Homo sapiens: one gene and its partners. The protein of the gene in region 1 interacts with the protein of each later gene in a biochemical or structural test. Each region holds a gene or a part of one and is shown on either strand. Other genes may lie near its edges. The genes, in order: MAPK8, STAT3, GSTP1 and HNF4A.

What was found.
Region 2: of the proteins of MAPK8 (region 1) and STAT3, one has a biochemical effect on the other in vitro, tested with the Homo sapiens proteins (2 studies listed by BioGRID).
Region 3: the proteins of MAPK8 (region 1) and GSTP1 form a complex in vitro, tested with the Homo sapiens proteins (2 studies listed by BioGRID).
Region 4: of the proteins of MAPK8 (region 1) and HNF4A, one has a biochemical effect on the other in vitro, tested with the Homo sapiens proteins (one study listed by IntAct).

Annotation. Positions count from the first base shown.
Region 1 is NC_000010.11:48,400,668-48,407,704, forward strand, and holds part of MAPK8 (mitogen-activated protein kinase 8), read left to right. Parts: intron 1-944; 5' UTR 945-993; coding exon 994-1,115; intron 1,116-4,184; coding exon 4,185-4,314; intron 4,315-7,037. UniProt on the Homo sapiens protein: Serine/threonine-protein kinase involved in various processes such as cell proliferation, differentiation, migration, transformation and programmed cell death.
Region 2 is NC_000017.11:42,312,798-42,315,453, forward strand, and holds the end of STAT3 (signal transducer and activator of transcription 3), read right to left. Parts: 3' UTR 527-2,656; downstream 1-526. UniProt on the Homo sapiens protein: Signal transducer and transcription activator that mediates cellular responses to interleukins, KITLG/SCF, LEP and other growth factors. Once activated, recruits coactivators, such as NCOA1 or MED1, to the promoter region of the target gene.
Region 3 is NC_000011.10:67,579,526-67,586,814, forward strand, and holds GSTP1 (glutathione S-transferase P), read left to right. Parts: upstream 1-4,286; 5' UTR 4,287-4,318; coding exon 4,319-4,319; intron 4,320-4,608; coding exon 4,609-4,644; intron 4,645-4,938; coding exon 4,939-5,045; intron 5,046-5,159; coding exon 5,160-5,247; intron 5,248-5,612; coding exon 5,613-5,716; intron 5,717-6,578; coding exon 6,579-6,686; intron 6,687-6,863; coding exon 6,864-7,052; 3' UTR 7,053-7,128; downstream 7,129-7,289. UniProt on the Homo sapiens protein: Conjugation of reduced glutathione to a wide number of exogenous and endogenous hydrophobic electrophiles. Involved in the formation of glutathione conjugates of both prostaglandin A2 (PGA2) and prostaglandin J2 (PGJ2).
Region 4 is NC_000020.11:44,400,675-44,407,711, reverse strand, and holds part of HNF4A (hepatocyte nuclear factor 4-alpha), read right to left. Parts: exon of another isoform or gene 6,340-7,037; coding exon of another isoform or gene 6,225-6,339; intron 5,159-6,224; coding exon of another isoform or gene 5,068-5,158; intron 1,655-5,067; coding exon 1,480-1,654; intron 332-1,479; coding exon 237-331; intron 1-236. UniProt on the Homo sapiens protein: Transcriptional regulator which controls the expression of hepatic genes during the transition of endodermal cells to hepatic progenitor cells, facilitating the recruitment of RNA pol II to the promoters of target genes. Activates the transcription of CYP2C38.

The DNA of each region.
Region 1 (7,037 bases):
TCTTGGGGGTTAGCATTATCTTAAAACCACAAAAAACAATAACTTTAGACCTAATTGGTTTCATGACTTATTGAGGAGGCGAGGAATAGGTTAAAGCTGCTTTGCATACATTTTGGAATAGTCTCTTTTGTCTAGTAAGGATGGATAAGTTTGTTAATAACCAGTATTCACATGGGTAGAAAAAAAGTGTCTTGATTTTTAATCCTACAAGTAGTAAAGGAATGGTAGTCAGAAGTTGAATCGTACTTTTAATGCCTCAGGCAGGATAGAATAGTATTGTTTTGTTTTGTATCCCAATATGCCTAACTACTTCTCTCTCTCTCCTTTCTGTTTTGCTTCTCATCCTTTCACCCATTACAGTCTCAGTATGTGTGTTACACCAGGAGGTTGCCTTGGCAGGTCAGAGGATCTGTCACAGTGAAGGCACTGTGGTACCCTTTGTTTTTTAGGCAAGGATGACACATGCTAGTCAACTTATTTCCATTTGTTGTTCCCTCCACTTGGCACTAAATGAGACTTAACCATTTTTGAATCAAAGTTTATAAATTTCTTACAAAAATTAAGGTTTTTATTCTCTATAATAAGCACATGAGAAAGACTGGTTTTAAATTTTAAACTGTGGAGTGACGTAAAAACATGTTTAATTTTAATTATTTGCTTTCTTTTGTTCGTCTTGTAAGTTATTAATGTATTAATACTGGTAACTTCTAGATTGGAGGAATGATTTATCCTAATGTTTCTTTTTTAAAAAAAACTATCAGTCATTCATATGGCATATGCTAATCAAGGCTCTGCGGTATTTTTTTTCTTATGTTTTTTAATGAAGCAGCTCTTTTCATGATCTAGCAGTCTGTGTTACTATCAGTACGTAAACAGTAAGGACTCAAATTTTAAGATTAAAACAAGTTCATTTTGTTAACATCATGTTTTGTTGCATCTTGCAGCTTCTTGGTGAATTTTTGGATGAAGCCATTAAATTAATTGCTTGCCATCATGAGCAGAAGCAAGCGTGACAACAATTTTTATAGTGTAGAGATTGGAGATTCTACATTCACAGTCCTGAAACGATATCAGAATTTAAAACCTATAGGCTCAGGAGCTCAAGGAATAGTATGGTAAGTGTTTACTTCCAAAAATTAGGCAAAGAATCATTAACTGCTACCTTTTCTCCTCTCGTAATTTAGATACCTTGGCAAATATTTAACTTGCTTTGAAAAATTAAATTAAAACTAAAAATTAAACGAAAACTATTCCACAGTAAATTGTTTGCTTCAGGATCAATGGTCTTTTCTTTATTATTATTATTAAAGGTTGAGTATCCCTTATCTGAAATGCTTAGGACCAGAAGTGTCAGATTTTGGAATATTTGCATTGGTTGAGCATTCCAAATTCAAATCAGAAATACTTCAGTGAACATTTCCTTTGAGCATCATGTCAGTGCCCCCAAAATTTAGATTCTCGAGCATTTTAGATTTCATATTTTCAGATTTGGGATAATAACCTGTATTATTCATAAGATACAACTCTATAAACTAGCACTGCCATCTTTAAGTATAAACTATGATTAAATACTTGGGCATAGCCATTGAAGACAAATATCTCTATCAGCAAAGAATAAGTGGCATGCTTGTTAATTTCATGTATACATGTATTCCCATAGATAATTGTTTAATAAGAAGCTTCACTTAGTCATCACTTTCACACTATAATGAAGCGTGGAATTTCAGAAATCTTATTCTATACTGGGGAATGAAGTCAGCTAATATCTCACTGTGTGTGTTTCAAAATTCATCCATATGTTTAAAATTGATTTATTAGCTAATTTCTACAAAAGCCTCAGGCTATATCAGCATAATTCTTTATAAACTGAAATGCAGATCACTCTTTGGGATAGTTCTGATACTGATTGCAGATCACTAAATTAGCATAATAATAAACTAGTGTTTTGGGGAATTATAAGCCTCACTCAAGAATAATTATATTTTTATTACCTCTTCTTGAAACAAATTTCAGAATCTATTCTAAACAAAATGTAAACTGTTAAGTATTTATAATCCAGTATTTCTCCTAGGTTCTAAAAAAACTGTTTTACATGTGCACAGGGAGTCATGCATAGGATTGGTGTTTGCAGCACCATTTATAACAGCAAAAATTGGAAATAGCATCAAATCTATCAACAGAAGAATAAAAAATTGTGATACAGTCATGCTGTGAAATACTATATAACATTTTAAACGAACTGGAGCCATATGTGTCAACAAGGATAACCTCAGAAATGTAGTGCTGGGCTTCAAAGCAAGATGTAGAATATATATATACATCATTATACCATTTACATGTAGCTTAAAATATGCAAAGCAGTACCATATATTTATGGATTATATATATGTACAAAAGATTAAAACATGCATAAATACCAAACTTAGGATGTTGTTTATCTCTGAGAAAATAGAGAAAAGAAAGGAGGTTTGACCTATAATATTATATTTCTTTCTAAAAAATTCAGAGCAAGCCGGGCGCGGTGGCTCACGCCTATAATCCCCGCACTTTGGGAGGCCGAGGTGGGTGGATCATGAGGTCAGGAGTTCAAGACCAGCCTGGCCAACATGGTGAAACCCTGTCTGTACTCAAAATACAAAAATTAGCTGGGCATGGTGGCACATGCCTGTAATCCCAGCTACTTGGGAGGCGGAGGCAGGAGAATAGCTTGAACCCGGGAGGTGGAGGTTGTGGTGAGCTGAGATGGTGTCACTGCACTCCAGCCTGGGTGATAGAGTGAGACTCCGTCTAAAAAAAAAAAAAAAATCAGAGCAATTATGGTAACGTATTAAGATTTAATAAATTTGCATAATAGAATGGCATTTATTATCTTTCCTGCATTCTTGAAGTAATTTACAATATCAAAAATTATAGAAGTTGGAGTCATTTTGTAAGCCGTTTTGACTGGCCTGTTCTCATTGTAACCAACCACATTTAACCAACCATAAATTAAATTTAAAGAAAATCATATTATATAGTCAGTATTAGGATTCTGAAAGCCAGCTCTCTGTTCAGATTTTGTTTTTTGTTTTTTGTTTTTTTGTTTTTTTGTTTTTTTTTGAGACAGAGTCTCACTCTGTCGCCCAGGCTAGAGTGCAGTGGCGTGATCTTGGCTCACTGCAAGCTCCGCCTCCCGGGTTCACGCCATTCTCCCGCCTCAGCCTCCGGAGTAGCTGGGGCTACAGGTGCCTGCCACCACGCCCGGCTAATTTGTGTGTGTGTGTGTGTGTGTGTGTGTGTGTGTGTGTGTGTATTTTTAGTAGAGACAGGGTTTCACCATGTTAGCCGGGATGGTCTCGATCTCCTGATCTCGTGATCTACCCGCCTCGGCCTCCCAAAGTGCTGGGATTACAGGCGTGAGCCACTGCGCCTGGCCCTTCTGTATTTATTTTATTGTGTCCAAAAGGATAGAAGTAATGTGTTTACATAGAATTATTCAGCAAATCTTTTGAGTAGAATTTATATGCTTTTTTTTTTTTTGAGGGAGTCTACCAGGCTGGAGTGCGGTGGTGCGATCTTGGCTCACTGCAACTTCCGCCTCCCAGGTTCAAGTGATTCCCTTGCCTTAGCCTCTCAAGTAGCTGGGACTACAGGTGTGCACCATCACACCCAGCTAATTTTTTTGTATTTTAGTAGAGGCGGAGTTTCACTGTGTTGGCCAGGATGGTCTCGATCTCCTGACCTCATGATCCACCCACCTTGACCTCCCAAAGTGCTGGGATTACAGGCGTGAGCCACTGCACCCAGCCTCGTATGCATTCTTTATCCTACCTTTTCTTGATGGAAGTACAAGGTTAAGGATTTATTTAGGCTTTAGGCTATCTAGTGGAGCTAAATAATTATGGATTTGTACATTGAGTGCCCACGATGTACTAGGTGGATCTTTGAGGCAACACAACGAACATGCAGGGTCTCTGTTGGCATAGTCCACTGTCTATTTGGATCCATTAGCATTTTAGGAAATAGTTGCAAAAAAATATATGTTGTAATAGATATAGAAGACACATGTTGAGCGTCATAGACTTGGAAGGGATCCAGTTACTTGTCTTTGGAGAAAGTGAGAAATGTATATGACTGTTTCATGAATTCAGTTTACAGATTTTTGCTTGAAGTTTTTTTGTGTGTTTTTGAATTTCTTATTACAGCGCAGCTTATGATGCCATTCTTGAAAGAAATGTTGCAATCAAGAAGCTAAGCCGACCATTTCAGAATCAGACTCATGCCAAGCGGGCCTACAGAGAGCTAGTTCTTATGAAATGTGTTAATCACAAAAATGTAAGTGAACATTTTTGGTTTCCTAAGTATAGATGAAATCAAGATTTATTCATGAATATGTGAATATCAAAGACTAAATATTAGGGGCTTTAAATTGTTCTGTATTAAAACATTGTTTAAAAGGGATATATATATATATATATATATCTACAGGGTGATTTTCCTCAACTTTATTAAATTGTATCAGAAGAATGGCTTCTAAAATTTAGATTATATGATTTCCTGTCATTTAATTTACAAAAGGAGTTTTAAAAAGATAAGCGTTTGAGAAGAATTTTATTCAGCTTGATCTCATCTTCTGCTTTTTGTTCTCCGTCAGGCTGACATTTAGAAAACTGTAGCATTAGCACAGAGATGAAATTGTTCCCATTATGCTTTGACACTCTGACTTTAATCATATTGAATATAAAATTTATATCACTTCTCCCTACCCCACTCCCACCTCTTTAAGTGATGGCAGTATTCACTGATCACTTTATGATGAGGATAGTGGGTTTAGCAGAAAGTGTTTGAAACTATCTAGAGGGTATTAACATGTTTCTAATTCTATTTTCTAATGATTGCAAAGATAAGTCTTTATAAAGATATATAAGTTGCACTCATTTTGAGAATAAACAGTTATACTTTTTTAAACTTACATTAAGCTTATTCATACTTTTGTGATTGTTCTAATGGAATGATTTCTTCAGTTGAGGAAATAAACTAGGAGTGAATTGTGTAAGGGACACTTTTAGGCAGTCCTAAACCGAAGGCATCTGACTAAAGACATTTCGTAGTGTTTGTCCAAAAGAGTTTATATAATATAATGAGCACAGTACCTTCTGACTACAGATAATACAATTTACCACATTTTGAGATCTAAATATGTGCAGGCCTCTGTGTATTGGAGTTACTGGGTTCATTATCAAGGGAAAAAAAAATCATGGAAGTTCAGGATTAGGCCCTTTATTTGGGGAGCTTACAATGGTGTTTTGAATACAAAACAGACATACAGAGAGTTAAATATCAAACATCACAAAGCAGTGGCCGTTTGTCAAATGATGATGGTGGCCCATATATTGAAATCTAAAAAGAGGGACGATTTCTGTGAGCTTTAATTAACTGGGAAGGCTTTGGGGAGGAGTAGACCTAGGCTGACTCTTAAAGATGGGGTAAAAATTGGATTGTTGAAGGAAAGGAGCCTTCAGAGAGGAAGAATGACGTAAAAAAGGTCCAGAGACAAAGATTAAACTTAGATAATAATAGGGAGGAAGTTGTGGTAGCCATTCTTGTTCCAAGCGGGAACTTGATGTGTTGCTCATCACAGTTTTGCTGGTGGCATCCTGTCCATGGATAGAGCTGCTCGTGCCCCTTGTGGCCTGTGAACGCAGTTCCATGGCAGTGGTGGTGTTGCCTTAGTTTTTCCTTGGGGAGGAGTTCAGTTAATCCTACCTCTCAAGCCTGGGTGACTGCAAAGAAAGGTGGTTCCTTCAACTGCATGGAGTATGACTAAGCATGTCTCACATGATTAGGCCTCTAGCAGGGGTGGCAGAGGTTTATCCAGGCAGAACTCTCAGCACCTAGAAGAGTGTGGACAAGAGTAGGTACTCAGAATATATTTGTTCAGTGAGTGAGTATAAAGCTAAATATGGGAAAACTGGAAATGGTAACTGAATTATTCCACTCACCCATGGATGGATGTTTTTGTAGTGTTTTGCCTTTTAAACAATTTCATCCTCTGTACAGATTGTCTCTTCACTGGTCTAAGCATCTCTGGTTTTTCTCATTCTTTTCATAGATGGTCTTGAGTTTCTTTTTTAATCTTGGCCGTTTATCTCTGAACACACTTTGAAAGTGACCTAGCACACACTACTGCATAAGCCACCTAGCACACAGTACTGCACGTCTGATCAAATCCTCTGAGAGGAGCTGAGGCATGTCATCTCTTAACTGTAGACATTAAAACCCTGTTTAGAAATTTCGTCCCCATCTGACTCCCGTTGTCTTTCTTTGTTACAGGCCTGCCTTACAGTTCCCATCTCACCCAGTCTTTATATTTTTTCTTTTGATTATGGAGAATTAAGTATAGTACTTCATGTTTCTCCCTATTAAATTTCAAAGGTGAAATGTGGTTGCTCTTCCTGGTCTACTAGTGATTGCTGTGATTGCTTTTTTCTTCCTTGTTCTGACTTTTCACTTGTGGGCTTCACTTCCCAGTTTTGCTCAGGATATCTTTGTAATAGCTGGATTAATTCATTAGCAACTTTTGAGCATATTGCAGAAATTACGTGTCTAACTATCACAGTTATCCAGCTGTTTCCAATTCATCATCTTATTCACATGGATGTTATTATTAGAAACATTTTGTAAAATGCCATTTTGAAATCTTCATATACTGTGTCTGGTTGCATTTTTCTGATTTATTGCTATTGTTCTTTGTTGTTTTTATTCATGGAAGGAAATAGTATTTCTCAATGAACTTTTACCTGCTCTTGGTAATTGTTACTTCTTTTGAAGTAGTTATATACCACTACTAATCATTGACTTTTGCTTGGCTGTCCAGTCTATAACTGATATAATTTCCTTTATTTCCCTTTTTGAAAAATGGGACAACTATCTGTTTGAATCTCTTTTATAACAGCTTTATTGAAATATAATTTCTGTGTCATGCAATTCACCCATTTGAAGTATACCATTCAGTGGTTTTTAGTATATTCAGTGATATGTGGGACCATCACTACAGT
Region 2 (2,656 bases), on another chromosome or scaffold:
GGGCACGTGTAGGGGTGGGGAGAAGCCCTGTGGGCGCCCGCGTAGCTGAGGTTGGGGCGCCTTTCCCTGCATTATCACCGCTGGCTGCCGGGGGCCCTGCAGCCACCACCGGGTGTCTGCGTGTTGTCCCCGCTGGGTGAACTGAAGGGAAAGTGATAAAGGAGCCAACTGTGGAAGGGGAGGCCTTGGTGCGGTGGGAGTATCTACCCCCCACCCCGCTTAGGTGGCTTATCTGACCCCAGACAGGACGAGGCCGCTCTGGGGGGTAGGAGGGGGCCGGGGAGGGAGGCCTCCACTCTGACACCTTTCTGCCGTTGGACTATTGACCTCCTGCTCCTCCAGGCACCCCTTACCTCCGGGCTGGTGGCTAACATAAGGGGGTTGGCGGGGGGGATTAAGGCAACCACCTCCTCTCAAGACCCTTTCCGGCCCTTATCCCAGGCCCCACCTGTGTGTGAGGCCCCCTCAGAACTTATGCAGGGGAAAAGGAAGCCTCCACCAGCCAAACAGAGCTGCCATGCTATCAGACGGTTCCTATATAACGTTTATTTCTGGAAGTTAAAGTAGATACAGCAATATACCAAAAAAAAAAAAAAAAAAAAAAGACAAAAAACCTCACAATAATATAAATTTTTACACTATGAAGTACACATTGGAATTTGAATGCAGTGGCCAGGACAGCAGCTTATAAACCACCTTATAGGTAGGTAAGCAACCCACGGGATTCCCTCGGCTGGGCTGGGGATGGGGAGGGGGCAGTGGACAGGAAGCGGGCAGGGCCTGAGGACCCTGTTCTTTAATGGGCCACAACAGGGCTCAGCTCCTCTCAGAACTTTTGCTACAATCAGAGTTAAGACCAGATACATGCTACCTAAGGCCATGAACTTGACAATATCTGCTCCAGAGAAGCCCTGAACCCTCGCCCTAGGTCCCTATGATTTAAACCCAATGGTAAGCCCAAGTCTCACCTTTCTAAATATTCTGTTTATCAGTTAAGCTTATTATGTACTGAAGAGTGTTGCTGGAGAAGTAAGAGCTCTGCATGACACATCAACTGTCTCCAGGCAGGAGGACTGGGGCGAACCCTGTTCATCTTAGAGAAGGTCGTCTCCCCCTTAATTCAGAGACCAGCTAATTTGATTTAACAAACAGAATTCCACAGAAACTCTGATCAGCTGAGGCAAGGTGGTTTTGAGTTGCCAAATCCGGCCATGCCTCTGAGTCAGAGGCAGCCCATCCAGCACGTGCTAGGTGTTCCCATACGCACAGGAGAGGCGAGCTAGCCAGCCAAGGCGGGCAGGCGGGGAGGCCCTCTAGCTGTTCTGCCTCACCTGTGGGGCCCCAGCAGGGAGGAGTCACCAGCCTCAGAGGGAGGCCAGGTATACACCCTCATACGAGGGCAGACTCAAGTTTATCAGTAAGCCTTTGCCCTGCATGAACTGAATGAAGACGCCATTACAAGTGCCACTGGATATCACCAAGAAACTGGCTAAGAACCATATTCCCTGAGCTCAACCAGACACGTCGCTGGGGCCCCATAGTGTGCATCATGTCCAACCTGTAACTCTCTCCCCCTCTTCTTCCATGAGGTCCTGAGACCAGGATTCCTAAAACAAACAGGATGAGGGACCTTTAGACACGCAAGGAGACATGCCTCTAGCAGGATCAGGGGGACTGGGGTCGGGAGGGTGGGGCAGGAAGGAAGCCAGAATCAGAAGTATCCCAGCCCTGATAAGGCACCCACAGAAACAACCTAGCCTCTGAAACAGCAGATCAAGTCCAGGGAGAAAGGGAGTCAAGGTTGTAAGCACCCTCTGCCCAGCCTTACTCACTAAAAGGCCAATACATTACAAAGGAAAATAAGTCTATTTATAAAAAAAAGTCTAAAATGCTTAGATTCTCCTTAAACCTTCCTATTTCAACACCAAAGGCCAGGTTGCAGCTTCAGATGTCTTAAGGGTTTGACCTGAAGCCCGTTTCAGGGATTATATAAATTACCAGCCTGAAGGAAGCTGAATGCTTAAAGCACCAAGGAGGCTGTTAACTGAAGTTTCTTTTTTTTTTTTTTTTTTTTGAGACAGAGTCTCAGACTGTCGCCCAGGATGGAGTGCAGTGTGCAGTGGTGCAATTTTGGCTCACTGCAACCTCCGCCTCTCAGGTTCAAGCGATTCTCCTGCCTCAGCCTCCCGAGTAGCTGGGACTACAGGCGCCCACCACCACACCCAGCTAATTTTTTGTACTTTTAGTAGAGACGGGGTTTCACCGTGTTAGCCAGGATGGTCTTGATCTCCTGACCTTATGATCCGCCTCGGCCTCCCAAAGTGCTGGGATTACAGGCGTGAGCCACCATGCCCGGCTGCTTAAGTTTCTTAAATACAGAAAGGCTATGCTGATACAGTGTTTTTTGCCCTTTAATTGTTATTATTTCTTAATTTAAAAAGAAACCTAGGGCTTAGATAGTCCTATCTTCTATTTGGATGTCAGCAAGGTTAAAAAGTGCAATGCCAGGAGTATGTAGCTATAGGTGGCCTGTGGCATTTGCTTACAGAAACAGGCAGAAGGATGCCGCAGGCACCAGGAGGCACTTGTCTAAGAACAACAACAACAATAACAAAAAGCTGCTGAGAAAGGAGGGCAGGGGAACAAAACAACACAA
Region 3 (7,289 bases), on another chromosome or scaffold:
ATGCCAGAAGGAAGGAGTTTGCATTCAGTTCCTTTATTAGTACTCTCTGGAGTTGTTGAGGGGATGTCACTGCTGAACACTGACCCTGGTGCAGGCTAAACCGAAGTTAGCCTCTGCTACCCTCTGCTGGGTGAGGCACTGGGGAGAACAGTGGGACTGAATGGGGCGGGCTTTCTCCCTCCCACACTTCCCCTGGAAACACCCAGCACCAGCACATTAGAACATGGGGAGCCACCTTCCCCAGCGCTGCTTCCCAAGGTTCGGAAGGGGAAACTCTGACCTCAAGCTCTGTTTGAAGAGCGATAGCAAAGGGGAGAGGTTGGCTGTGGTTTGGTGGTGCTTATCTCCTTCCTTTGCTTTGAAACCACAGGCTGGCATACTACCCGAGAGAATGACCAGTGCCACCAAGGGAAGGGCACAAGCTCACTGGTTCCAGGGGAGACATCTCAGGGGACAGGAACATCCCCTGACGCTGAATGAGTGCAGCACACAGACGGAGAATACACACAAGAGAAATCATGAGGACATGAGAGAAGGCACTGGCAATAGGAAGTTACAAAAAGCAACAAAAAGAAAGAGTAGATATAAAAACAATAATCGAAGAAAGCCAACAACAGATGGGATGAATCATACGAGGTATGCGACTCATGGATGAAGAGGTGAGTGATGAGATCAGCTGGGGAACTCTCTCCCAGGAAAGACAAACCAGAAGAAACACAAATGACATCGAAGTGGCCAGGCGCAGTGGCTCACGCCTGTAATCCCAGCACTTTGGGAGCCCGAGGCAGGTGGATCACTTGAGGTCAGGAGTTTGAGACCAGCCTGGCCAACATGATGAAACCCTGTCTCTACTAAAAATACAAAAATTAGCCAGGTGTGGTGGCAGGCACCTGTGATCCCAGCTACTCAGGAGGCTGAGGCAGGAGAATCACTTGAACCAGGAAGCAGAGATTGCAGTGAGCTGAGATGGTGCCAGTGCACTCCAGCCTGGGCAGTAGAGTGACAGCCTGTCTAAAAAAAAAAAAAGGCAGTAAAGTGATAGGAGGATAGATTAGAAGGGCCATTTTCCAGATAGTGCAAGGAAGAAAGAAGAAGAAGAAGAGGAGGAGGAGGAGGAAGAGGAAGAAGACGGAGAAGAGGGCATCTCAGAAGAAACAATGGAGATACATTTCTCAAAACTGAAGAAAGATGACCAACCTCAGACCGAAGGGCCAAGAGGCCAAACCAGAGAGACAGCTTGGCAAGCCAGGAAGAGCACCAAAGCTAGACAATTAGAGTGAAATTAAAGAAAACCCAAGGTGACAAAAATTTAAAAAGCTTCCTTGTGACCTCAGTCCATTGGTGAAAATTTAAAAAAAAAAAAAAAAAAAAAAGGACAGCCTGGGCAACATGGTGAAACCCCATCTCTACAAAAAATACAAAAATTAGCTGGGTGTGGTGGCACATGCCTGTAGTCCCAGCTATTCGAGAGGCTAAGTAAGGCAGGAGGATCACTTGGGGCCAAGAGTTCCAGACCAGCTGCGGCAACATACATGTTGTGGGAAGTCAGGCACCCCGAACGGAGGGACTGGCTGAAGCCATGGCAGAAGAACATAAATTGTGAAGATTTCATGGACATTTATCACTTCCCCAATCAATACTCTTGTGATTTCCTATGCCTGTCTTTAATCTCTTAATCCTGTCATCTTCGTAAACTGAGGATGTATGTCGCCTTAGGACCCTGTGATGACTGCGTTAACTGCACAAATTGTTTGTAGAGGACAATTGTTGTGTGTTTGAGCAATGTGAAATCTGGGCATCTTAAGAACAGGATAACAGCAATTTTCAGGGAACAAGGGAGATAACCTTAAAGTCTGGCTGCCTGTGGGCTGGGCAGGACAGAGCCATACTTCTCTTATTACCGCAAACAGGTAAGAGAAATATCGCTGAATTCTTTCCCCAGTAAGGAATATTAATAATTAACAGCCCTGAGAAAAGAATGCATTCCCAGGGCCGGGCCACTGAAATGGCCTCCCTGAGAGTGCCTGCCTTTATTCAGAAGTAGAAAGGGATGAAACACGCCCTAGTCTCCTGCAGCACCCCCAGACTTGATAGGATTAGGAAATTCCAGCCTGGCAAATTCTAGTCAGACCGGTTCTCTGCTCTTGAACCCTGACAGTGCGTGCACAGTGGGACCTGGAAGTTCATTAGTGATTCTAGTTTCGCCGTGACCTTCTGCCCTGTGATCTTTTGTCGCCCTTGAAGTATGTGATCTCTGTGACCCACACCCTGTTCGTGCACTCCCTCCTCTTTGAAAATTGCTAATAAAAACTCGCTGGTTTTACGGCTCAGGGGGCATCACGGAACCTGCGGACATGTGATGTCTCCCCTGGACACCCGGCTTTAAAATGTCTCTCTTTTGTACTCTTTCCCTTTATTTCTCAGGCCAGCCGACACTTAGGGAAAATAGGAAAGGACCCACGTGAAATATTGGGGGCTGAATTTCCCCCGATAATAAGTCTCTTAAAAAAGACTTTTAAATGAAATTTCTTTGTTTTTTAACTTTTATTTCTGTTTTGGGGGTACATGTGAAGGTTTGTTACATAAGTAAACTCGTGTCTTCGGTGTTTGTTGTACAGAATATTTCATCACCCAGGTATTATGCCGAGTACCCAATAGTTCTCTTTTCTGCTCCTCTCCTTCCTCCCATCCTGCACCCTGGAGTCAACCACAGTGTCTGTTGTTTCCTTGTTTGTGTTATAAGTTCTCATCATTTAGCTCCCACTTACAAGTGAGAACATCCAGTATTTGGATTTCTGTTCCTGCATTAGTTTGCTAAGGATAATAGCCTCTAGCTCCATCCATGTTCCCACAAAAGACATGATCTAGTTCTTTTTAATGGCTGCATTAAATGAAGTTTTAAAGATACAACATAAACACCAACCTCTTCCCCACCACAAAAATCCCTTGCTGAATTTGATTACACTTAAATTAACGAGTTTTGTTTCATGAAAGACTCCTTGGACAAACTTGACAGTTGATGGAATAGGAGAAGCTGTCTGTCATGTCTAAAGCCAACAAGAGATCAATATCTAGAATAAATGGAGATCTGCAAATCAACAGAAAGTAGGCAGCAAAGCCAAAGAAAATAGCCTAAGGCACAGCCACTAAAAGGAACGTGATCATGTCCTTTGCAGGGACATGGGTGGAGCTGGAAGCCGTTAGCCTCAGCAAACTCACACAGGAACAGAAAACCAGCGAGACCGCATGGTCTCACTTATAAGTGGGAGCTGAACAATGAGAACACATGGTCACATGGCGGCGATCAACACACACTGGTGCCTGTTGAGCGGGGTGCTGGGGAGGGAGAGTACCAGGAAGAATAGCTAAGGGATACTGGGCTTAATACCTGGGTGATGGGATGATCTGTACAGCAAACCATCATGGCGCACACACCTATGTAACAAACCTGCACATCCTCTACATGTACCCCAGAACTTCAAATAAAAGTTGGACGGCCAGGCGTGGTGGCTCACGCCTGTAATCCCAGCACTTTGGGAAGCCGAGGCGTGCAGATCACCTAAGGTCAGGAGTTCGAGACCAGCCCGGCCAACATGGTGAAACCCCGTCTCTACTAAAAATACAAAAATCAGCCAGATGTGGCACGCACCTATAATTCCACCTACTCGGGAGGCTGAAGCAGAATTGCTTGAACCCGAGAGGCGGAGGTTGCAGTGAGCCGCCGAGATCGCGCCACTGCACTCCAGCCTGGGCCACAGCGTGAGACTACGTCATAAAATAAAATAAAATAACACAAAATAAAATAAAATAAAATAAAATAAAATAAAATAAAATAAAATAAAATAAAATAAAAAAATAAAATAAAATAAAATAAAATAAAGCAATTTCCTTTCCTCTAAGCGGCCTCCACCCCTCTCCCCTGCCCTGTGAAGCGGGTGTGCAAGCTCCGGGATCGCAGCGGTCTTAGGGAATTTCCCCCCGCGATGTCCCGGCGCGCCAGTTCGCTGCGCACACTTCGCTGCGGTCCTCTTCCTGCTGTCTGTTTACTCCCTAGGCCCCGCTGGGGACCTGGGAAAGAGGGAAAGGCTTCCCCGGCCAGCTGCGCGGCGACTCCGGGGACTCCAGGGCGCCCCTCTGCGGCCGACGCCCGGGGTGCAGCGGCCGCCGGGGCTGGGGCCGGCGGGAGTCCGCGGGACCCTCCAGAAGAGCGGCCGGCGCCGTGACTCAGCACTGGGGCGGAGCGGGGCGGGACCACCCTTATAAGGCTCGGAGGCCGCGAGGCCTTCGCTGGAGTTTCGCCGCCGCAGTCTTCGCCACCAGTGAGTACGCGCGGCCCGCGTCCCCGGGGATGGGGCTCAGAGCTCCCAGCATGGGGCCAACCCGCAGCATCAGGCCCGGGCTCCCGGCAGGGCTCCTCGCCCACCTCGAGACCCGGGACGGGGGCCTAGGGGACCCAGGACGTCCCCAGTGCCGTTAGCGGCTTTCAGGGGGCCCGGAGCGCCTCGGGGAGGGATGGGACCCCGGGGGCGGGGAGGGGGGGCAGACTGCGCTCACCGCGCCTTGGCATCCTCCCCCGGGCTCCAGCAAACTTTTCTTTGTTCGCTGCAGTGCCGCCCTACACCGTGGTCTATTTCCCAGTTCGAGGTAGGAGCATGTGTCTGGCAGGGAAGGGAGGCAGGGGCTGGGGCTGCAGCCCACAGCCCCTCGCCCACCCGGAGAGATCCGAACCCCCTTATCCCTCCGTCGTGTGGCTTTTACCCCGGGCCTCCTTCCTGTTCCCCGCCTCTCCCGCCATGCCTGCTCCCCGCCCCAGTGTTGTGTGAAATCTTCGGAGGAACCTGTTTCCCTGTTCCCTCCCTGCACTCCTGACCCCTCCCCGGGTTGCTGCGAGGCGGAGTCGGCCCGGTCCCCACATCTCGTACTTCTCCCTCCCCGCAGGCCGCTGCGCGGCCCTGCGCATGCTGCTGGCAGATCAGGGCCAGAGCTGGAAGGAGGAGGTGGTGACCGTGGAGACGTGGCAGGAGGGCTCACTCAAAGCCTCCTGCGTAAGTGACCATGCCCGGGCAAGGGGAGGGGGTGCTGGGCCTTAGGGGGCTGTGACTAGGATCGGGGGACGCCCAAGCTCAGTGCCCCTCCCTGAGCCATGCCTCCCCCAACAGCTATACGGGCAGCTCCCCAAGTTCCAGGACGGAGACCTCACCCTGTACCAGTCCAATACCATCCTGCGTCACCTGGGCCGCACCCTTGGTGAGTCTTGAACCTCCAAGTCCAGGGCAGGCATGGGCAAGCCTCTGCCCCCGGAGCCCTTTTGTTTAAATCAGCTGCCCCGCAGCCCTCTGGAGTGGAGGAAACTGAGACCCACTGAGGTTACGTAGTTTGCCCAAGGTCAAGCCTGGGTGCCTGCAATCCTTGCCCTGTGCCAGGCTGCCTCCCAGGTGTCAGGTGAGCTCTGAGCACCTGCTGTGTGGCAGTCTCTCATCCTTCCACGCACATCCTCTTCCCCTCCTCCCAGGCTGGGGCTCACAGACAGCCCCCTGGTTGGCCCATCCCCAGTGACTGTGTGTTGATCAGGCGCCCAGTCACGCGGCCTGCTCCCCTCCACCCAACCCCAGGGCTCTATGGGAAGGACCAGCAGGAGGCAGCCCTGGTGGACATGGTGAATGACGGCGTGGAGGACCTCCGCTGCAAATACATCTCCCTCATCTACACCAACTATGTGAGCATCTGCACCAGGGTTGGGCACTGGGGGCTGAACAAAGAAAGGGGCTTCTTGTGCCCTCACCCCCCTTACCCCTCAGGTGGCTTGGGCTGACCCCTTCTTGGGTCAGGGTGCAGGGGCTGGGTCAGCTCTGGGCCAGGGGCCCAGGGGCCTGGGACAAGACACAACCTGCACCCTTATTGCCTGGGACATCAACCAGCCAAGTAACGGGTCATGGGGGCGAGTGCAAGGACAGAGACCTCCAGCAACTGGTGGTTTCTGATCTCCTGGGGTGGCGAGGGCTTCCTGGAGTAGCCAGAGGTGGAGGAGGATTTGTCGCCAGTTTCTGGATGGAGGTGCTGGCACTTTTAGCTGAGGAAAATATGCAGACACAGAGCACATTTGGGGACCTGGGACCAGTTCAGCAGAGGCAGCGTGTGTGCGCGTGCGTGTGCATGTGTGTGCGTGTGTGTGTGTACGCTTGCATTTGTGTCGGGTGGGTAAGGAGATAGAGATGGGCGGGCAGTAGGCCCAGGTCCCGAAGGCCTTGAACCCACTGGTTTGGAGTCTCCTAAGGGCAATGGGGGCCATTGAGAAGTCTGAACAGGGCTGTGTCTGAATGTGAGGTCTAGAAGGATCCTCCAGAGAAGCCAGCTCTAAAGCTTTTGCAATCATCTGGTGAGAGAACCCAGCAAGGATGGACAGGCAGAATGGAATAGAGATGAGTTGGCAGCTGAAGTGGACAGGATTTGGTACTAGCCTGGTTGTGGGGAGCAAGCAGAGGAGAATCTGGGACTCTGGTGTCTGGCCTGGGGCAGACGGGGGTGTCTCAGGGGCTGGGAGGGATGAGAGTAGGATGATACATGGTGGTGTCTGGCAGGAGGCGGGCAAGGATGACTATGTGAAGGCACTGCCCGGGCAACTGAAGCCTTTTGAGACCCTGCTGTCCCAGAACCAGGGAGGCAAGACCTTCATTGTGGGAGACCAGGTGAGCATCTGGCCCCATGCTGTTCCTTCCTCGCCACCCTCTGCTTCCAGATGGACACAGGTGTGAGCCATTTGTTTAGCAAAGCAGAGCAGACCTAGGGGATGGGCTTAGGCCCTCTGCCCCCAATTCCTCCAGCCTGCTCCCGCTGGCTGAGTCCCTGGCCCCCCTGCCCTGCAGATCTCCTTCGCTGACTACAACCTGCTGGACTTGCTGCTGATCCATGAGGTCCTAGCCCCTGGCTGCCTGGATGCGTTCCCCCTGCTCTCAGCATATGTGGGGCGCCTCAGTGCCCGGCCCAAGCTCAAGGCCTTCCTGGCCTCCCCTGAGTACGTGAACCTCCCCATCAATGGCAACGGGAAACAGTGAGGGTTGGGGGGACTCTGAGCGGGAGGCAGAGTTTGCCTTCCTTTCTCCAGGACCAATAAAATTTCTAAGAGAGCTACTATGAGCACTGTGTTTCCTGGGACGGGGCTTAGGGGTTCTCAGCCTCGAGGTCGGTGGGAGGGCAGAGCAGAGGACTAGAAAACAGCTCCTCCAGCACAGTCAGTGGCTTCCTGGAGCCCTCAGCCTGGCTGTGTTTACTGAACCTCACAAACTAGAAGA
Region 4 (7,037 bases), on another chromosome or scaffold:
TTGCTGGGAGCCTGAGGAGCCAAGAGTGGGAGCTTATCTCTCTGAATCTTTCTCAAGACCAAGCCCAGCCGCTCCCTATGGTCAGATTTCCAGGCCCTCCCTCTTCTCAGCCATTAGCCAGTCACCCTGGGGCCTGCCACTGAGTCATAAAGTGTGGCTACAGTTGTAAATGACTGTCGGGGAGCTGTGGGTGCAGGTGGGGCAGTGGTGGTGGGGCGGGGAGGGCCGAGGCTCACCTTCCTTCTTCATGCCAGCCCGGAAGCATTTCTTGAGCCTGCAGTAGCGGCACTGGTTCCTCTTGTCTTTGTCCACCACGCACTGCCGGCTAAATCTGGGGAGGGCTTTGGATGGTTGGATGGAGAAGACACAACTTCCTCCTCTTAGGACAGAACTAGGGCCCTGGCTATCCAGTTGACCCCCCAACCTCAGTGCTCTCATCTCTTCATCCCGGGAGTTCTCTCTTGAACCCACCAGGAGCTGGAAAGGTGCTATGAACTCTCTAAGAGCCCAGTCCTGTCCTGCTAAACATGGGAAAACTGAGGCTCAGAGAGGCAACATGTGGTCCTGGGTCGCTCTGCTGGTTGGTGTTAGAGCTGAGTTGGGAACCTTGACCTCTGGAGTACCAGAGCCCTGCTATTTCCACCACATCCTATAAAAGCTCAGAACCCATAGCAGGCTCCTGGTTATGGCTCAGAGTTAATACTCGGTTCACATAAGCCTCTCTCTGGAGGGGGATAGGAAGTAGAGGCAGTGCCACACCGTGGTGATGGGTGGGGCCCTGAATGTTAACCCTGGCTCTGCCAGTGATTCAAGCTGGTTGACCTTGGGCAAATGCCTAGCCCTCCAAGCCACAGCTTCCTCCTCTATAAAATGGGAATAACAACAGTAACCATCTCACAGGGGTGTTGACAGGTGAAATGAAGTCATGCGCCGATGGGGCACAGTCTTTGTACATGACAAGTGCTCGCAATTGACAGCTGCTATGATTTTATTATTGTCATTACCCAGAACAGGAGATGCTTTCGAAAGAGGGCTCTCCAAGGCCTTGGGAAGACTTTGGGGTTGGTGGAAGCCCCTGGGGTAGGTGGAACGGCCTGGGGTCAATCTCCTATTTGTCCCAAAAACAGCACCAGACTGGAAGACGGGCTCATCTACTGAGGCTTCAGGAGAGGCCCCATGGAATGGGAAAAACAACAATGGGCTCAAGGGGATGGGTAAATACACACAAAGACTTAGTATTGTGCCTGGCATATGATAAGAGCTCAATAAACGGCAGCCAGTAGCTTGATGATCAGTAAATGTGGTTCCTAGAATAGATGCTCTTCTTGGATTCACAAAGTCTTTTACAAAACCAGAAGAGCCTTGAAGGCCCTGAAGGGCAGCTGTCTCTGGGACCTACCCACTCAGGGAGAAGACAGACCTTGGGGCCATGAGCCCAAGTGTGCCCATTTCCCAGCTGAAGAAATTGAGGCTCCTCACCTGCAGGAGTACATGTGGTTCTTCCGCACGCTCCTCCGGAAGAAGCCCTTGCAGCCGTCACAGCTCGAGGCACCGTAGTGTTTGCCCGTGGCCCGGTCCCCGCAGATGGCACACAGGGCGCTGACACCCAGGCTGTTGGGCGCGTTGAGGTTGGTGCCTTCTGATGGGGACGTGTCTGCGCCAGGAGAGAAGGGAGTGAGGCTTCAGGAAGAACAGAATGTCAGGCATCTAAGGGAGCCTTGCGGGGATCTCTCCAGGGCTTCGGCCTCAGCCAGATCTGGGGGCTGTTCCCACTCCATCACCTCCCCACTCAGTGACCTCCTGACTTTTTGGAGCTTCAGTTTCACATCTGTAAACTGGGGCTGGTTGTGACTTCACAGACTTGTTTCTGAGGGTCTGCGTCTTCCTGTGGTGGAGGCCACGAGCCCCAGCTTTCTCTAGGAAGGCATGAAAACCTGGCCACCTTCTGGGGTGGGAGCCGGCCTCCTAACTCGCAAGGGGGCTGTGGAAGGGAGAAACATTCCCCTGCATTTTCCCCAGAACCAGGTCCTGTCCCTCAGTTCTTGCCAAGGGACCAGGGCTGGGTGGATCTCAGCTTGTGTGCCCAGGGGCCCCGCAAATTCTCTGAGGAACGAGAAAGACTTGGGCCGAGAACAGTCACACTCATGTGGCCTCCTAGGAGGGTCTGGACACATCTCCCATCCCTCCCATCCCACAGGCAAAAGCTACTGCATCTACACAAATGTGAGGGGGGCCGTAGAGGCAGGTGGAAAGAGGATCTTGGGCTGGGTGCCAGGAGTCCTGGGCACTACTGCTGATGCTGCCACTAACTCGCCTGTAAACTTGGGCAACTTCGCTTTCCCTGCTTCAATTTCTTCTGGGCCTCATTTTCTCTAACCATAAAAGGCAGCAGTTTGACTGGTCTGTTTCCAAATTTAAAAAATTTAAAAAATTTAAAAAATTTGTTTCCAAATTTAAAAAAATAGCAGCAGCTGAACCCCCTTTATTTGTCAGCAAATCTTTCAGCAAAGATAGACCCCTTTGAAGAAGATGACAAATGCAATGGGTCAGCCCCCGGGAAAATGCAAGCGTGTGTGCCACACAGTCCACACACACGCACACACGCTACGCACAAGCACACACACGCACCACACAGTCCACACACACGCACCACACAGTCCACACACAAGCACACACACGCACCACACAGTCCACACACACGCACACACCACACACAAGCACACACACACCTTACACACCACAGTCCACACACACCACACAGTTCCCACACACGCACACACACCACACACAAGCACACACACACCACACACACCACAGTTCACACACACCAAGCAGTCACACACACGCGCACACACACCACACAGTCACGCACACACACACCACAGTTCACACACACCACACAGTCCACACACCACACAGACACACGCACACACACACATATATACACACATGTGTACACATACAGTACACACACATGAACACAGAGTCCACACATAAGCACACACACGCTCCACACACATGCACACACATACACACAGTCCACACATGCACACAGTCCACATACATTGCACACACTTGCACATAGTCCACACACATGCATACATACAAACACATCAACACACACATATACAAATGTGTGCACACATACAGTCCACACATATACATACACATACACACAGTCCACACACACATGCTCACATGCACAAACATACACACATACACAGACACACACACACACACGTGTATTCATAGAAATCCTGAATCCAACCTTGGATTCCTCAGGGGCATCCAGTTAAGACCCAGAGAGGGCCATGCACTGTAGGTAACAGCACAGCCTCTGAAGTCCTTCTGCCCAGGGTTCAATTCCAGCTTGCCCACTTTTTAGCCGTGTGACATTGACTGTGTTCGTTTACTTCTCTATGCTTTTGTTTCCTCACTTGTAAAATGGGGAACGTGATATTCCCCTAGGTTCGTTATGGGGATTCGGTGAATTCTCATATGTGTATGTGAAGTGCTTGGCACATAGTAAGCACTATATCAGTGTTCATGAAATAAAAACTTTTCCACATAGGAAAACTCTCGGAGCAGAGGACTTCCAGGCTCCTTGCACAAGCAGACACTGCCGCATCTCATTTCTGCCATCGCAGACTCCCAGGTGTCCCCAGGAGTGCAGCCCCCTCCACTTGGTGAATTATTCCTGGAGATGGGGATAATTGTTAAGCCACGTGGGTGCCCTTTCTCCCTCGGCCTCTCCTCCCCCGACCCCCGGGGAGAGCTGACCCCCACAGCTCCTGGCCATTCAGCAGGAGGCTGGGGAAGTAGCTCCCACCTCTGAGGCAGGATGGGCTGGGGGCTGTCAGCTCTATCATCTCCCCTCTGAGGTCAGCCGAGCACCTCTATTCCACAGATGAGGACACTGAGGCTTAGAGAGGAAAAGTGGCTTCCTGGTGTCATCGCACTGCTTCCCGTGAAGCAGAGCCATGGGTTTATGGTCCAGGCTTGCTGGGCTACTCCAGCCAGTGCCACACATGTTGAGGTGTCTGCTGGGCCTCTAATGAACAAGGAGCCACCCAGGGCTGCTGCTCCATTGGGGTGGGGAGAGGACGGGGGAGAAATATCCTTGGAGCCTTTCAGACACCAGCCCAGGATGTACTCAAAACACTTCAGAGGACAACTTCACATAACCCCAATTCAGACCACTTCAAACTCCAGTGAGGAATGTGGGGACCCTGCTTACAGATGCTCAGAGCCCTTGAGATGACCCATGGTGGGGCCAGGCCCTTTACCAGGGCTAAGCACCCAGGCACCTCATCTTATTTATCCTCTGGCCAGCCCTGGGAGACAGACACTATTATTTATTCCCATTTTATAGGTGAGGAAACTGAGGCTCAGAGAGGAAATTGCCTTGCCACATTCACACAGGTTGGAAGGATCTATGCCGGATTTGAGCCCAGATCTTTCTGGTTCCAGAGCTGGAGGTGGTCTTGTCTTTGGGACTCCCAGTTCAGGGGCTTGGCCTCTGCCTCAGGAGCACACAGTTCCTGGGCTTGGAAAAAGTGATGGGGGCGGGGAGCAGCCCAGGGCAGGGCAGTGGTCCTCGTGGGGCCACACAACACTCCACCTAGTGCAGCAGCAGCTTGTTTGCTATCTCTGGTGTGTTTTTGCCTTGCGCTCCTGGCGTGGTCCTCAGACAGGCCTAAAAGCCGTCCAGCCAGCAGGCCTGGGGGAATGAAGCCTGTTTTGTAGAAGATACAGAAGCCAGGATAGGGGAGGTGACATGCCCAAGGTCACACGTGACTGGACGGCAGGGGCAGGTGAGCACCTGCTGAGCTGACAACAAGCAGTGCCCAGCAGCTGCCTCCTCACCCTAGCTGAGCTGACCACAAGATTCCAGACCTCAGCTGGAGCTGCAGCCTCATACTGGCTGAGTGGCTCCAAGACACAGAAGGAAGCAGGGTGGCAGGCTGACCTCAGCCAGCTGCCTGCCCCCTCTCCTCTGAGGCTGGCCTGGGACCGATGGGGCTCTTCCCTCCAGGAGGGGTTTCCGGGCCTCCTCTTTTCCCCTACCTCCCTGTGGAGAACTGTCCACCCCTCCAGATATGCTCCAGTGATGTCGGAGGGGATGCCTCAATCTGGCGAGACGCAGCGGCAACAAAATCTGCTCAGAGACAAACGGACATGTTGCTGATATGAATCTCACTTGGTGAGTGGCAACAACAGAGTCCTGCATTTGGGTCTGTGCAGTCGTGCACACCAGAGACCGCTGACCCCCGCCCGCAGCACAGGGAACTGCATATATACACAGCAGGTACAAATATGGGCACACGACAAAACGCCCATACAGGATAAAGATGCAGGAAGAACAGGGCACTCCAACAGGTCCGCATGCACAAACGCATGTGCTCTATGACCCGCACACACAGCACACATGTACAAACATCCACAGACACAAGTACACACACATACACACTTACATACATAAGCAAGATCAACACGGGCAACTCCTAAGACACAAACACAGACCCACTCAATGAATACAAAGGAAAATAGACCCAGAACTCACACACAGAGACAAATGAACACACATATGCAAATGGGTTCCTGAAGGCATCACCCCACCCATACAACCTACATGGAAACTCACTATCACACACGAACGCACACACAACACACACAGTGCTGAGTTGGCTTCGTAGTTAGCAAAACTTCCCTGAGAGCTCCATTTTCCCTAAGTGCCAATTTCATTTCCCTAGGAAAGTCCCAAAGACACCGAGAAATGCGGTTATGTCTCCAACCACCATCTCCAGGGATACAACATCCCTTGCCGTCTCTCTGAACCTAGGCCCAAGGGGTTCACGAAGGGGCCGTGCTGGGCTGAATCGCTGGAGCTGGGCACCAAGGGGGAGCTCACCATCACGTCACTGTGCCAAGCGCCAAGCAGAGCCACTGTGAGGCAGTGAGGACTGGAAGGGCCTGGGAGGAATAGCCGGGATCGACTTTTGCTGGAAATTGGCCCTTGCAGGCCTCCCTTCACCCAGAATGCCTGTGATCACTGTGCCTGGGCACATGGGCTTCACTTGGCAACACCTGTGCTGGCCTGTAGGACCAACCTACCATTTTGTATCATTCTCCTCCCACCCCAAAGTTGAGTGCCAAAGATCTGCTCCTGGACCCAGGCACACCTGCCCCCACTGGCACACCTGGGCACATCTGCCCCCACCTACCATTGCCCATCGTCAACACCTGCACATTCTCAAATTCCAGGGTGGTGTAGGCTGGGTCCAGTGCAGCACTGTAGTCGGCCATGTCCATGTCGACGAGGGTTTTGGAGAGTCGCATTCTCCCTGCCTCCACGCCGCGGCCACCTGCCCTACCCTGGGCGCCCACCCCGAAGGCCCCCGCCCTCCGCCCTCCCACTGCCTCCTCCCAGTGCCCTCTCTGCCTTCCTTTCAAACCGTCCTCTGGGAAGATCTGCTGGGAGTCTTGGCCTAGCCTCTGTGAAGGGGTGGAGGCTCTGCCGGGGAGGGGTGGGGGTTAATGGTTAATCGGTCCCCCGCCGGTGGATAGGCTGGGCGGGGCTGCAGGGATTTGGCTGTTTGTTGGTTTCTGGCTGACACCCGGGGTGCTAATTACAACTGCTGGGGCCCTAACTCACCGATGTTCAGTTATCAATTGTACAAGGCAGGCATCATGACTCACGGGCACTCATTTGACCCTTGACTCACCCACCCCTCCAAGCCATTGTCACCCCAAGTCAGGCATTCTAACTGATACTATCAGGCACTGACAGCCTACCTCCGAGATCCCCTAATTCAATAACTTCCCAAATCATTGACTTCTACCCTCAATGCTTTTGCAGAGATAAGGCTGCCCCATGGCCCACGATTTAGAAACCTAAATCCCAGGCCCCAGATGCCAATCTTCTGGATCCTTGTTCTGGGAGCTCCCTTCCAGTTCCCCCGCAGTTTCCCGGTTCCCCTGGGAGCAGAATGGACTGGAAGTTTGGGAGGGCCAGATTCACCTCCAATTCCCCGCTC